Homo sapiens: one gene and its partner. The protein of the gene in region 1 binds, or shares a complex with, the protein of each later gene. Each region holds a gene or a part of one and is shown in the gene's direction. Other genes may lie near its edges.

Evidence for each region.
Region 2: the proteins of DERL1 (region 1) and VCP are in contact, whole or in part, in a cryo-EM structure (PDB 7Y59), measured with the Homo sapiens proteins. Residues at the interface, in NP_077271.1 of Homo sapiens: His240, Trp242, Gly243, Gln244, Gly245, Phe246, Arg247, Leu248, Gly249, Asp250; in NP_009057.1 of Homo sapiens: Arg113, Ile114, His115, Phe131, Leu135, Lys136, Phe139, Leu140, Val166, Glu167, Thr168, Asp169, Val176, Ala177, Pro178, Asp179, Thr180, Val181, Ile182, His183, Cys184, Glu185.

The regions. Positions count from the first base shown.
Region 1 is NC_000008.11:123,032,294-123,039,311, reverse strand, and holds part of DERL1 (derlin-1), read left to right. Parts: intron 1-7,018. UniProt on the Homo sapiens protein: Functional component of endoplasmic reticulum-associated degradation (ERAD) for misfolded lumenal proteins. Forms homotetramers which encircle a large channel traversing the endoplasmic reticulum (ER) membrane.
Region 2 is NC_000009.12:35,069,608-35,077,142, reverse strand, and holds the start of VCP (transitional endoplasmic reticulum ATPase), read left to right. Parts: upstream 1-4,517; 5' UTR 4,518-4,789; coding exon 4,790-4,806; exon of another isoform or gene 4,807-5,386; intron 5,387-7,535. Other genes in the region: FANCG (Fanconi anemia group G protein), read left to right, coding at 42-172, 273-419, 560-711, 1,115-1,181, 1,389-1,678, 1,818-1,864, 2,061-2,216, 2,649-2,772 and 1 more. UniProt on the Homo sapiens protein: Necessary for the fragmentation of Golgi stacks during mitosis and for their reassembly after mitosis. Involved in the formation of the transitional endoplasmic reticulum (tER).

The DNA.
Region 1 (7,018 bases):
AGCCTTGTGAACAAAGGACTGACAGATTGCCCCGACTATTCTGTGGAGTGGACTTTGTGTGTGTATGGAGGGGGTTGAAGGAGGAAGGGCTAGGTGATGAGATCAGAGAGATGAATCCAGTTAGGAGGCCAGAGAGATGGTGGTTTGGATCAGTGTGGCTGTGAAGATAGAGAAAAGGGCATAGACTTGGCAGAGGGGACGAGATTACAGCCGAATGGATATAAAGAGTGAATGGGTGAAGCGAGCAGGACTGAAAGATACTACTGTTTTCACAGGAGCAGCTGAGTGGATGGCGGAGCCCTTGACTGAGATGGGGAATGGTCAGGGATACCTGGGTTGGGAGTGGGGGCTGGTATGGATGAAGAGTTAGGTTTTGGCTGTGCTAAGTCTTGAGATGCTTTTCAGGCATCCATGTGGCGAGGCCAAGGGAGCAGTTGGATATAAAAACATGACTCTGGAGTGCAGCTGGAATTGCATACTGTTCTGTGTTTATTACTTTACTAAATATTTGTTGGCTGAGAGAATGTTGTGTACTTTGTCCCTGGTGGCTTGTTGGGTAATGTGTGGTCATGGGGAGCAATGGTGGCATATTAATGTGTGAGAAGGACCTGGTCAAAACCGGCTTGTTGTCCCTGTTAGCAAAATCCTCACTTGTGTAGTGACACTAGTGACTACACGATGTAAATAAGCACATTGTAAAGAAGCAATGTAAATAAGCCTAACAGGCTGCGGGTGTATAAGGTTAAAAGTGGTGAACTGATTAAAAAGAGTAATCGTTCTTGTCACATCTTCCACAATTTTGTCATCTTCCCTGTATTATTTCTTCTCAGCTGCCAGCAGGAGGCAGGACAGTGTACTGCCCAGGTGTGAAAAGACCAACAGCTGTACCTTGTCTTTTCTTCCTGTTACTCTGATTCTTGCCTATTTTGGACACATGTAACTTTCAGACCCACCTGGAGGAACTCATTTGCAAATGAAGCAGTCAAGGAAAAACTGCATTTGAGAGGCTGCTGTGCACGGACAGTGTGCGGTGTGCTTTAGCAGAGTTCTGCTAGAAAGTTCCTTTTTTCCTTAGAAGCTGAATCTTTCACAACTTACAAAAATGGGGGAGTGATTGATTTAGAATTGTGTGCTCATGTTGGAAGTGACAAGTTATTTTTCCTCCTCAGCTCTAGATTCTTGTGTGTAGCTTGTTGGTTTAGAACGCTGAGGTTTATAATGTTATTTCTTTAGTTTGGATAGGTTGAAACAGGTGTGTGTTAAGACTCATTATACTGTTGTCTACGATTTCTCCCTATTCTGAGTCCCTCAGATTTATGTTCATCAATCAAATAGTTCACAATAATGAAATGTCTTCATATTAATCGTTGATTAACTACACAAGAGGTGGCAATTCCTGCTGCCTTTGTGTTTTCTAAGGTTATGTCTCCCAGGGCCGCCTGCATGGCTATATTTCTTCATTTCTTTGGACAAAATAACATCACCCTGTTACAACTTCCCTGAGGTCATGTCACTGAACTCTGACAGTCATCCTGAGATAAGTGTTACCCCCATTTTGTAGACAGCTTCAGTTTCAGTTTCTATTTCGTTGAGTCAAGGATAGTTCTAAGCTGTTTTGTTTAACTCCTTTGCATAATATCTACGAAAAAAATAAGTATGTAGCAAAACATTTTTGAAGGTGATTTCTTCCAAATCAATCATAGCAAATTGTTTTTCCTTTTCTATTCGAGTAGAAAGGCTGTTAGATTTCAAGTAGTTGAATCATGGTCTCAAGGCCTGGCTCAGTCCCCTGCTAGTTGTGTACCCTTAGGCAAGTTATTTATCCTGTCTGAGCCTCAATTTCTTTAGGATCTGAGGATAATATCATAGCATATTAACTTTGTTCTAAGACTCCATTGATTATACGATGCACCATCAATTTAATGCAACTTTTTTGGGGGACAGGGGAGTAGAAATTACATTCAACGAGTGTATTGATTGTAAGACACTCTAATTTCAGAAACACAGGAACGAGTACCTTCAAATTGAGGAAATATGTTATCTACTTCTTGCCTCTAGTATGTAGAACACATAGAAAAATGTTTGTAATACCCAATAAGTAGCCTGATAAATAAGCTATTCAAAAATAGTTGCCTCCTACGTGGTTGGTATGGGAAAAAAAATAGTTGCCAATTTTTATTTATCAGCCAATACTTTATGCCTTATTTCCTTCTCTCCTGGACAGTAAGATTCTAATTTTAATTAGTAATTGCAATTGAAATGTAACTGCTGGATGATTATTCTGCTTTGTCTTCTTAAAAGCATCCTGACTTGAAATGGGAAGATGTGAACTCTTGATTTCTCTAATTTATTTCCAGGAATAAGAAATGGTACCAACCAATTCTGTGACTCAGCCTTGTGCTTATATTTGCCAAGCTTTTGCTTATATATCACATTTAACCTGATGACAGCAACCTTAGGAGACTGATTTAAGGGTGTATTGGGGAAGAGAGACGTTTCAACATAGCAGGGAGGAGAATGAACTTGGACTATAGGCTGAGCATAGAAGTTCTATATCCATCAAGGTTTGGCTATAGAACTCTAGTGGCAAGTGTTCTGGTACGTAATTTAAGATCTTTCCTTAGTAGTCCTGTCCATGTTGAACAGTTCTGCTGTGTTCTGTAATAATGTTGCCCATTAGATTGTGGCTTTTTAAAAAACTTTTTATTGAGTTACAATATACAAGCAGGAAAGTGTATGTATAATAAGTTTATAGCTTGAGTTTTTAAAAATTCAAAACATGTATACAGCCAGCATTCAGATCAAGAAACAGAATCTCTAAAAGCTTTCTCCTGCTTCCTTCTGGTCACTGTCCTCTCTAAGGGTGACTATGCTCTTGATTTTTAATACCATGTATTGTTGTTGCCAGTTTTTATGCTTTTTATAGGTGGAATTATGAAGTATGTTCTCTTTTGTGTCTACCTGCTTTTATCAACATTATGAGAGTCACCCATATTGTTGCATGTGGTTATAGGTTGCTCATTATGGGACCATACCACAATTTATTTACTCATTCAGCTATTAATGGACCTTTTGGGCAGTTTCCAGTTTGGCTATTATGAATGGTGCTGCTATGAACATTCTAATACATGTCTTGGTGAACATATGTACTTCTTGGTGAGGAGAAATAGTAATTTCTGTTGCCTATATATCTAGGAGTAGATTTGATGGCTTCTAATTGCTCTTTTTAAAGATTAAGTGCCTTTCATTTGTTTAAATGAATGGAAGGGGCCTTTTCTTGCCTACCCGTTGTGTCTCCCCACCCAGCAAAAAAGGCCACAGTTTACTAAACTAGCATTTGTCACACAGGTGCTCATCATCTTTCTTGCTTGGTGACTGATATATACTTAAGTCCGAATCAAGTGATCCTTATTATTTCAGACAAATCCTCACTTTTCATACTTTAAAAAAAAAAACACTAGATTCTGGATGGCAAATTATTTCAGTAGCAGATTGTTTAGAAGATTTTAGCTAAAGGATGGCTGCAACCTACACTCTGAAGTTGTTGGACTAATAACTGAGGAACAATGTCTTATGTCTTCTTTAAGGGTGTATATAGCAGTGAGCACATGGGCTACATGTCCTTGTTAAGTGAGGAACTCTAATTAGGGCCCAGCTTTCCTCCTGAAAAAACTGGGATCATTATGGGCCTGGCCTTGAGGTTGCTGTGGACTTAAAATGAGATACTCCCCCACGAGTCCTCTCAGTAAGTGTGAGGCAGGCAGTCCTCTGTCTGCAAGTCGTGGCTCTTTGTGCTGCAGTTGGCTGCCTCTTAGGCTTTCCAGGGTTGAAAATGGGCCTCTTCACTCCTGGCACTGAACGTAAAGCCAGTTCCTTCTCCTTACTGTTTACATATCAGGTCGAGGAAAAAATGGGATTTAGTTGGATACTTACAATGGGGATTTCCGAAATATGTTACACTGTGTCCTTCTAAAGAGATAAGCTGTCTTCTGGTGTTTTCAGATTATAATTTTAAAGTAACACAAAAATAATATTAAGTCTTTTAGATCAATGAAAGCAAGTATAACTCAAGGGTAGGCTTAATGAACAGGGAAAAGAAGTGAGATATTTTGACAGACACTGATTTCCAAAGAACAGGTGCAAACAGTGACTAAAAATAGTCTTATGTCATCAGCATTAGAGAAAATGTAGTCAGACAAAAACAAGGTTTCTTTTCCAAAACCAGGCCTTGAGTAACTTATAGGAATATGGGGGTAGTTGAAATATGAATTTATAAAAACTGGTTAGCGGGTGTTTCCGAAAAGATTGTGATAATACAATTAACACACCCACACATATTAATTCTTTTTGCATAGTATCTTTTTAATTCACTTTCTTAATTCCAACCTTTTACAAATCCTGTAAGATAAGGAAGGCAGAAGTCATAGGATAATGTCATTGGGTAGATGATGAAGCCAATTTGACGTCCATACTTTTCCAAGGGTCCAGGGCTACCTAGAGGGTTTGCTTCTGGTCTTTACTCCCAGTCCTTTTCTTAAGCACAGAGAATTAATTAGTAGGTTTACTCTGAGTCTATTTCAGGATTACACAAGTGTCTGTAGTAGTGAACACTTACACTAATTGTAATTGTACCTCATAATACTGACGCCATTTGTGAGAGGGATTGTAAAAATAGGGGCTTAGTATCACAAACTCTGGAGTCAGACTGTCTGGGATAAAATTCTAGCTTCACCACTTACTGGCTGATACTTAACCTTTTCTCATCCTGTTTCCTCATCTATGAAATCCGTCTCCTGAATCAGTGCGTGTAAATAAGCTGAGTAGCACATTAATTTATTGATTTCTTTAAAAAAATTAACTATGGAAATTGAGGCTCGGAAGTGGTGACTTATAAGCAAAAACTTAAACCCAGGTCTTCTCAAGTCATCTCCAGTTCCCTTTCCACTAAACTATCCTGTTTCTGTGATAAAGTTGTGAATGAATCAAACCAAATGTTAAACTATTTTATTTTTCTGGTTTAATACACGTTTCTTGGAAAGTCACTTTTTTGGTATGCACATTGCATTTCCCTCTACAAGGAATTAAGCTCTGAGGGTTACATTCCTGTACTTGGAGAATGGAACTGGCCAGTCTGTATGTGGCCAGTCCCCGTGACTGACGTCCTCCATTCCAGCCACACTTGAATTGTTAGCAGTACCCATTCAGTTATTGTGCTCTTGCAATTCTTGGGGCCTTTGTAACAAGTCCACATGTCCCCTCCCTTGTGCCAACCCTTTCTTCCTTTGACAGCCTTCCCCACTACTCTGAGGAATTCAGGGGCCATGTCTTTTGTGCTTGGTACATGCTAGTGTGCAATGAGATAGACACATATCTCTCACACCAAAAGCCAGCATTTTGCTGCCATTTCCAAAAGTTTAGGAAGGCCATCTGCTTCAATCACTATTTAGCATTGTTCTGGTGGGGGTGCCAGCCAGTGAATTAGACAAGAATGAAATAAGATACAAAAGTTTATTTACAGCTAGGGTTGTATGCTTGGAAAGCCCAAGAAGCTCAATTTTCTTTTTTGTTAAGACATAGTTTCGCTCTTGTTGCCCAGGCTGGAGTGCAGTGTTGTGATCTCGGCTCACTGCAACCTCTGCCTCCTGGATTCAAGCGATTCTCCTGCCTCAGCCTCCCGAGTAGCTGGGATTACAGGCATGTGCCACCACGCCCGGCTAATTTTGTGTTTTTAGTAGAGACAAGGTTTCTCCACCTTGGTCAGCCTGGTCTCGAACTCCCGACCTCAGGTGATCTGCCCACCTCGGCCTCCCAAAGTGCTGGGATTACAGGCATGAGCCACTACTCCCGGCCGAAGCTCAATTTTCAATATTGTAGGCAGTAAGATACTCAGCTTTTGTGGTTAAGTATAAAAAGGTAGAAAGAGATAGCTCTATAGACAACTCTAAAAGCTATGAAAAACTTCTTGGCTGGGAATTATATCAATATCACATGGATATAATAAAAGAATGGTTCTAATTCATTTAGAAAAATAAAATATTGAGACTAACCAAGAAAATTGTGACAATTGTTGAAGAAAAAAAGGGGGAGATATTATTTAGCTGTTTAACTTTACCAGCTATTAAAATATGTTATAAAAGGAATAGAAACTAGGCTAGGCCCAGTGGCTCATGCCTATAATTTCAGCACTTTGGGAGGCTGAGGTGGGAGCATCATTTGAGGCTGGTAGTTTGAGAGCAGTCTGGACAACATAGGAAGAGCCCGTCTCAAAAAACAAACAAACAAAATTACCAGGTGTGATGGTACATGCCTGTAGTCCTAGCCACTTGGGAGGCTGAGTGGAGAATTGCTTGAACCCAGAAATTTGAGGTTACAGTGAGCTGTGGTCAAAACACTGCGCTCCAGCCTGAGCAACAGACTGAGACCTTGTCTCAAAAAAAAAAAAAAAAAAGAAAATAGAAATTAAAATAACTTGATATTGGCATAGGAACCAATTCCAAACAGAATGGTGTTAAAATAGACCTACATGTAAAAGAGACTAGAGTATAAACGTTCAATGAAAGTAGTTTTTCAAATAATTGGAAAAAATGTGGGTTACTCTGTAAATGGGGTTGGGAAAACTGGGTGACTATTTAGAAAAACAGTTGGATCTCTTCCTCATTCCTTGGATGCACCTTGAAAGTGCTAAAATAAAACCATGAACACTTACATTCTTGGAGCGAAAAGACTTTCTAAACATGACACATCATGGATACATATGCCTACATTTAATTAAACTTTTGTATGTCAAAATATGGCAAAAACACCATGAAAGTCTAATGACATCAGAAAATGCTTGCAATGATGAGAAAGAGAAATTTCATAATGTATGAGGAAATGCAGCCAGGTGCGATGGCTCATGCCTGTAATCCCAGCACTTTGGGAGGCCAGGACAGGTGGATTGCTTGAGCTCAGGAATTTGAGACCAGCCTGGGCAACATCAGGAGACCCTGTATCTACAAAAAATATAAAAATTAGCCAG
Region 2 (7,535 bases), on another chromosome or scaffold:
CTCTATAGCCCTCTCCAAGCTCACACCCTGACTGTCCTCAGGTCTCCAGGAGCTGATCACAGGGAACCCAGACAAGGCACTAAGCAGCCTTCATGAAGCGGCCTCAGGCCTGTGTCCACGGCCTGTGTTGGTCCAGGTGTACACAGCACTGGGGTCCTGTCACCGTAAGATGGTAAAGACAGTCCTAGGGTGGATTGGGGAAACCACAAGCATTATGTATAGCTTTTTGCTTTGTAAGGGTAGCTGAGGCCCGTGTCCTCCTATCCCTTTAGGGAAATCCACAGAGAGCACTGTTGTACTTGGTTGCAGCCCTGAAAGAGGGATCAGCCTGGGGTCCTCCACTTCTGGAGGCCTCTAGGCTCTATCAGCAACTGGGGGACACAACAGCAGAGCTGGAGAGTCTGGAGCTGCTAGTTGAGGTAGGGAACTGCCAGGTGAAGATGTGGGGTGGAGGATTCCTGAGGTGCTTGTGATGGGGTGACTTGACTAGTCAAGATCCAAGTATAAGGAAGTATGGCTCCCAAAGATTATAGATACAATTTTTTTCTTTCTCTTTTAGGCCTTGAATGTCCCATGCAGTTCCAAAGCCCCGCAGTTTCTCATTGAGGTAGAATTACTACTGCCACCACCTGACCTAGCCTCACCCCTTCATTGTGGCACTCAGAGCCAGACCAAGCACATACTAGCAAGCAGGTGCCTACAGACGGGGAGGTGAGGTTCCCCTTGCTCACCTGAGCTTCTCTTCCCACTTCTGATGCCTCCCCTGGGGTGTGACTCTGCTTTTGTTCTTGTGACTTGGGGGATGAATGAGGCAGTGGCAGGACATAGGTCGCCACTCCTCAGCCTCTTACCTTGCTTCTAGACCTGAACTGAGGACTCTTCTCTAAGACATTAACCTTCTCTATCTTTGACACTCTGAAGTCTCTTCCCCAGTCCATTCTGTAACTGGGGTAGATCCATACTGAGCCAAAATTGGAGCCCTAAGACCTTCCCTCCCTTTCTCCTCCTCAGGGCCCATGAACATCCATCTGTTAGCTAAGAGAGAACATTCTCAGGACCCTTGCAGGTTCCCTGCTAGGGCCTAGGGTGAGGCTTATGGGCTTTTACTCCTCAGGGCAGGAGACGCTGCAGAGCATTACTTGGACCTGCTGGCCCTGTTGCTGGATAGCTCGGAGCCAAGGGTGGGTGTGTCTTCAAGCTTCTCTGCAATGGGGTAGACGGGTTGGTGTCCCCTTTGAAATACAGCAAGACTGCAATTTTTTGTTTTTTCCTCTATTCTGTCTGTCCAGTCTGGGGGCCCAGGACTCTGCATGGTACCAGAGCCTGGTGAAGAGGTTGGGGATGGTGGCTCATGCCTTTCAAGACACTGCTTCTTCTTCCCACTCCAGTTCTCCCCACCCCCCTCCCCTCCAGGGCCCTGTATGCCTGAGGTGTTTTTGGAGGCAGCGGTAGCACTGATCCAGGCAGGCAGAGCCCAAGATGCCTTGACTCTATGTGAGGAGTTGCTCAGCCGCACATCATCTCTGCTACCCAAGATGTCCCGGCTGTGGGAAGATGCCAGAAAAGGAACCAAGGAACTGCCATACTGCCCACTCTGGGTCTCTGCCACCCACCTGCTTCAGGGCCAGGCCTGGGTTCAACTGGGTGCCCAAAAAGTGGCAATTAGTGAATTTAGCAGGTGAGCCCGGGGTCCTAGAGGGGGTGTGGAGGGATGATTTTCTGATTGGGACCTGAGTTGGTGAGCTCCATGTTCACCTACTTACCCTAGAGTTTCTGAAATTGATTCCTCTTCACCCCTGTTCTGTGTCCTACTTCAGGTGCCTCGAGCTGCTCTTCCGGGCCACACCTGAGGAAAAAGAACAAGGTGATCTAAACTTTCAGTTTTCCTCTTACCTCCTGGAAGTGGTAGTGGTGGAAGTGGGTTCCCTTTAATGTGTCCCAGCCCACCAGGAGACTTAAGAGAAAGGGACTGTGGACACAAGAAGAAATAGAGGAGGATTTGGGGTTTTGGTGACTGTGAGGCTGGGAAGACACTTCTTGACTTTGGGAGTGGTCCCCAGGGGCAGCTTTCAACTGTGAGCAGGGATGTAAGTCAGATGCGGCACTGCAGCAGCTTCGGGCAGCCGCCCTAATTAGTCGTGGACTGGAATGGGTAGCCAGCGGCCAGGATACCAAAGCCTTACAGGACTTCCTCCTCAGTGTGCAGATGTGCCCAGGTATGTATACTTGCATGACGTCGGCTATGCATAGATGTGCAAGGACAGAGAGGCCCATGGGAAATACTTGGGCGTAAGTGTAAGAGTGGTGTTCTCAGACAGGAGGGGTGATTGGGGTTGTGCTATATATACCTAGGGATATATCCAGGTGTTCAAATATACACAGTGTGTATGCAGGGCTCCCAAGAGTTCCCTGGTTTCCCCGATATCCTCAGACACAAAGACCATGACTCTGCTGTTGTGGGTTGCACAGGAGTAGGGGGCAGATGATGGACACTGGGATGGGAATGGTTGTGAATGATCTGCCCCCGCTTCCATATGTGAGTGTAGGCAAGATACTTCCTCTCTCTAGGCCTCAGTTTCCCTTTTTATAAAACAATGCCTAAGACTATGTCAAGTTCTAAGACTCTGTACTCTGGGCTGGGGCTACAGGTAATCGAGACACTTACTTTCACCTGCTTCAGACTCTGAAGAGGCTAGATCGGAGGGATGAGGCCACTGCACTCTGGTGGAGGCTGGAGGCCCAAACTAAGGGGTCACATGAAGATGCTCTGTGGTGAGGCTCAGGCCTGCTGGCTTGGGGCTGAGGGGCAGTTGGTGTCCTAGAGTCCTTGGACCTATTGTGGGTGGTGAACACTGAAAGCGGGGGTATGGCTGCCCAGCTTTCTGCCAATCTTTCACCCTTAGGCATCATCCTTCTTTCTCTCCAGGTCTCTCCCCCTGTACCTAGAAAGCTATTTGAGCTGGATCCGTCCCTCTGATCGTGACGCCTTCCTTGAAGAATTTCGGACATCTCTGCCAAAGTCTTGTGACCTGTAGCTGCCACGTTTTGAAGAGCTTGAGCTGGGTCCCCAGTGGGCTGTCTCTCTGTGGGGAGGGCTTTCTGCTTCACCATCATTAGGAATGTGACCATTCCTATATAATTCCTGGACTGGTGAGATTGGTGGTAGGCCTGTGAAATTTGCCCTAGTTACTACCATTCTCGTTTTGGAGGAAACAATCTCTGCCACCACCAAGTCATTGACTTTGCTCGAGGCACCTTTTTTCCTGTTTCTCCTTTTCTGTTGTCGAGTAAAATTTCATATTTATCTCGTCTGCCTACTACATATACTTGCGTGGGAAGGCTTGTGACCGTCTAGTTGAGTGCTAGTTGTCTATGATGCCCTTTCCTGACATCGTCTACCTTATGAACTTGAAGTCTGGGTATGAGGAAAGGGCTACAGGAATCCTCACTTTGGAGGCAGTGGCTTTAGTCCTTCACATTGCCTGAATGCAGAGCCCCAAAGCCCAGGACAGTGACAATGAGTGGAGTTGGGTCTGAAGGGTGGTCTAGATAGGCCTCTCAGGACAAGGGCAGGTACCTGTTACTTAGAGACAGGCAGGTTTCTCTCAGAGTAACTCTTCACTCCCTTCCTAATTCCAAATTCTAGAAATTCGACTCGTCTTAGTCAAATGTGTCTGTGTGGGTACAGGGTGAAAGGTGAATTGAGTCAGCATATCACCAACAGCTGCCTGTTGACTACTAACAGGGACCCCTGTTATTTGGGGCCCAAGGATTTTCAAGTCCCAGCATATGCAGTTTTCTTGCTAATTTGGGTTCTACTGAATTGGCTGTGTGTTCTGTGGTTGCCCTTTGACTTCTCTGGATTTGAGTGCCTTATTATAAGGTATTAATATTAATGACGGGAGGAAGAAAGGCACAAGCGCTGAGAAACTGCAAAGGCTGTGGGATTGGGGTTACCAGAGGGTGCAGTGACAATGGGGTAGGAGTGGGGTGCTAGTCAGAAAGTTCAGAGTAGGGGTGGTTGGAGGCAGCGTTGAGAAGGAGCAAGAAGTGTCAGGGTGGTGATGGCGTCTTAGAAGATCTCCAGGTTTTGGGAGAAGATGGGTGTATGGGTTACCACAATAGGACTAGACTAATACAAGGGTTCAGTCTATTGTGCCACGTTCTTCCAGGAGGATAAACTCCGGAGCCAATGAACTGGAGCCAAGTGGGAGAGTCCGCCTCTAAGGGATTAAAGGGTCTCCTTTCACTAATCGATCTCGCCCTATTCCTTTCGTTGATTGGCTGAGAATTCCAATCCGTCGAGGAAGCGTAGCGTTGCGGCCAATTGACGTGGCGTTACTAGGCGTGTCGCATCACTGAGGCGGGAGCCAGGCCGCAAGCGAATTTCCTGATTGGCTGTGATCTGCGGGTTGCTGGGGAGAGGCGCGGAGAGGCGGGCGAGAGTCCGCAGGGCAGGCGCTGATTGGCTGAGGTGGGAGCAGCTTCCCTTCCGATGATTCGGCTCTTCTCGGCTCAGTCTCAGCGAAGCGTCTGCGACCGTCGTTTGAGTCGTCGCTGCCGCTGCCGCTGCCACTGCCACTGCCACCTCGCGGATCAGGAGCCAGCGTTGTTCGCCCGACGCCTCGCTGCCGGTGGGAGGAAGCGAGAGGGAAGCCGCTTGCGGGTTTGTCGCCGCTGCTCGCCCACCGCCTGGAAGAGCCGAGCCCCGGCCCAGTCGGTCGCTTGCCACCGCTCGTAGCCGTTACCCGCGGGCCGCCACAGCCGCCGGCCGGGAGAGGCGCGCGCCATGGCTTCTGGAGCCGAGTGAGTGTGCGCGCGCCGTTCGCTTGCTGCGGCGGCGCGCACCGGGACCAGCCGCGCAGGGTAGGCCCGGCGGGGCCTGGCCGTGGGCGCGTCAGAGAGGTGGAGACCAGGAAAGAGGGAAGGGAAGCTAGGGGGCGAGTGAGGGGCCGTGGACCCGGCAGGCCCGGCTGGGGCCAGCTGCGCACCCGCGCGCCCCCTAGGCGGGGCTTGCGTTGGGTCCGGGTCGGAGCCTGGGCCGGATCGTGCTGTGTCATGCAGGCCCCGGCCCGCCCGATTGGCTCCCTTAGAACGGACGTCTGGGCCTGGCCAGGTCTTCCGGCCCACTCCGCCGGCGCGGCGCCCCGGGGCTTTGGGGCGCCAGTCTGCCGTCCGGCCTACCACCCGCCGAAAGCCTTTGGTCCCCGGAGAGAGCAGGCCCCGCGAGCCCGAGGCCCCAGCCGGGCCCGGTGGGCGTGGACTTTGCGCCATGTGAAGGCCTCAGGAGCTCTGCCACCGAGGCGGAGCCCGGGGTCGGGGAAGGCCCGCCGAGCTCAGGGAAGCTCACAGCCGCCTTTTTGGAGCCGGGTCGGCGGGGCCGGAGGTGGGCATCCTCTGTGTGTGACCTGAGTCGTGAAGGACTGTTAGGGAGAGGGCGAGCCCTACCTTTCGCTTCTGGTCTTCTTACTTTAGGCCTGTTGTTCATACTAGAAAGTTTGAGCCAGTTTTCCTTAATGTTATGACTCGTGGGTGGGGAGAAAGGAATTTTTCTTTAACATTTTAGGTTCTTGCTAAAGTTGGAATCTCAGTTCGTGTTTTGTGCGCCTTTCCAGATTTCCAGGTTTCGTGGTGTGCAGTTTAGAGTTGCACTAACTCTTCAAAAACACAAACGTGCGCGCACTCCTTTCCCCAACCAGCTATATTGAGAAATTACCCGGGCTCTGGGGCTTTCTGACCCCACCTCCATCCTTAGGAAAGCGTTAGATAAAACTTGGCTACCTCAGCCCATTCAATTTAGAATAGAGAGCTTTTAGAGGCAAAAAAAAAAAAAAAAAAAAAAAAAAAAACACAGCCAGCCCAAGGAAACTCTATGCAAATTACCTTCCTTCCTTGAAGAGATTAGTTTTTTGAGGTGTGTTCCTTTTTCTCAAGTTTCTGAATTCGGATAAAGTATTACTCAGTTGCTTATTTAAAAGAGTCACTTATTCTGAAAGTATTCTTTTGGTTTATATGCAGTCAGCCTCTTATTTTCAAAAGTAAAAATCTAAAATTCTTGGAACCTGGCATCATCAGCTGTTTCTAACCTCTTGGTCACCTTGATGACTCTTAGCTGAAACCCTTCCAAGTCCCGTGGAGTCCCCTGTGCAGTTCTGGAAAGGGATTGACTTATACAGAAGACAATGGAGGATTGCCCCAAAGAGTGTCCAGAACTGCTGTTGGCCCATGGTCAGGCCAAATTCAGTCTTTTAGAGATTACCACATCTGATCTCAGTAGGTAGATGGGGAATTAGAGGCTTTACCTTAAGAAAAGGGCATACCACTCATCTCCAGAGCCAGAGTCCGGGATGGTAGGCAGAATGGAGGTTTTCCTAGGATACAGCTTTGAGATTAAAATACAAACTATTGACCGGGCACAGTGGCTCAGGCCTGTAATCCCAGCATTTTGGGAGGCCGAGGCAGGCAGATCACTTGAGGTCAGGAGTTTGAGACCAGCCCGGGCAACATGGAGAAACCCCATCTCTATTAAAATGCAAAAAGTAGCCAGGCATGGTGATGGTGCACACCTGTAGTCCCAGCCACTCTGGAGGCTGAGACAGGAGAATCACTTGAACCCAGGGAGGCAGAGATTGCAGTGAGGGAGATCGCGCCACTGCACTCCAGCCTGGGCAACAGAGGGAGACTCCGTTTCAAAAAATAAAAAACTATGGTGACTAGAGGCATCTGGCGTTTTATTTTTCTCCAGTCCCAGTTCTATAAGTCAAGCAAGAAGATGGGCAGTCCCTGGAAGAGTATTTTGATGGGACAGGAGTGGGAGAGCTCGTGGGTTTACATTGCTCTCAACTGTCACATTGAGCATGCTTGGCCTCTAGTGTGTTGATAAGCATTGGAAGAGTCTGCCTACTCAGCAGCATTGTGCCTGGAGTGGCAGACTTTTGGAATGGGGGAAGCAAATTTGAGCAGAGGAAACTGTCGTTAGAAACTAGTTTAGAGGCAGTGGTTAAAAATGCAGCCTATGTGTGAGGGTTAGCAGAAGGCCTACCATTTTGTTAGATGAATGGGGTTTGTTTTTCTCTTGGGTGTATCAGGACCCAAAGATGTAAGAACCCCATGGCTTCCTAGCTGAGCACAGCATTTTTCTTTGTCTCTTGCAAATTGTGAGGATATTTCCAATGGGAATACTATTTTGTCTTGTTTTGTTGACTTCAGTATCCCCAGCCCTTAGAACAATGCCTGGTACATAATAGAGACTCATGAATTTGTTGAATGAAGAAATTCGTTTTAAAAATTTATTTTCTTTGCTTCCTTCATTGTCTGGCCTTCCTACTTTGGTTAATGCTTATGTTTTCCTGAGCCTTACTAACACGAGGCCGCTCTTAAAAAAGAGAGAGCGCTGGGTGCTGTGGCTCACGCCTGTAATCCCAGTACTTTGGGAGGCCGAGGTGGGCAGATCACCTGAGGTCAGGAGTTCGAGACCAGCCTGACCACCATGGTGAAACCCCATCTCTAGTAAAAATGCAAAATTAGCCAGGTGT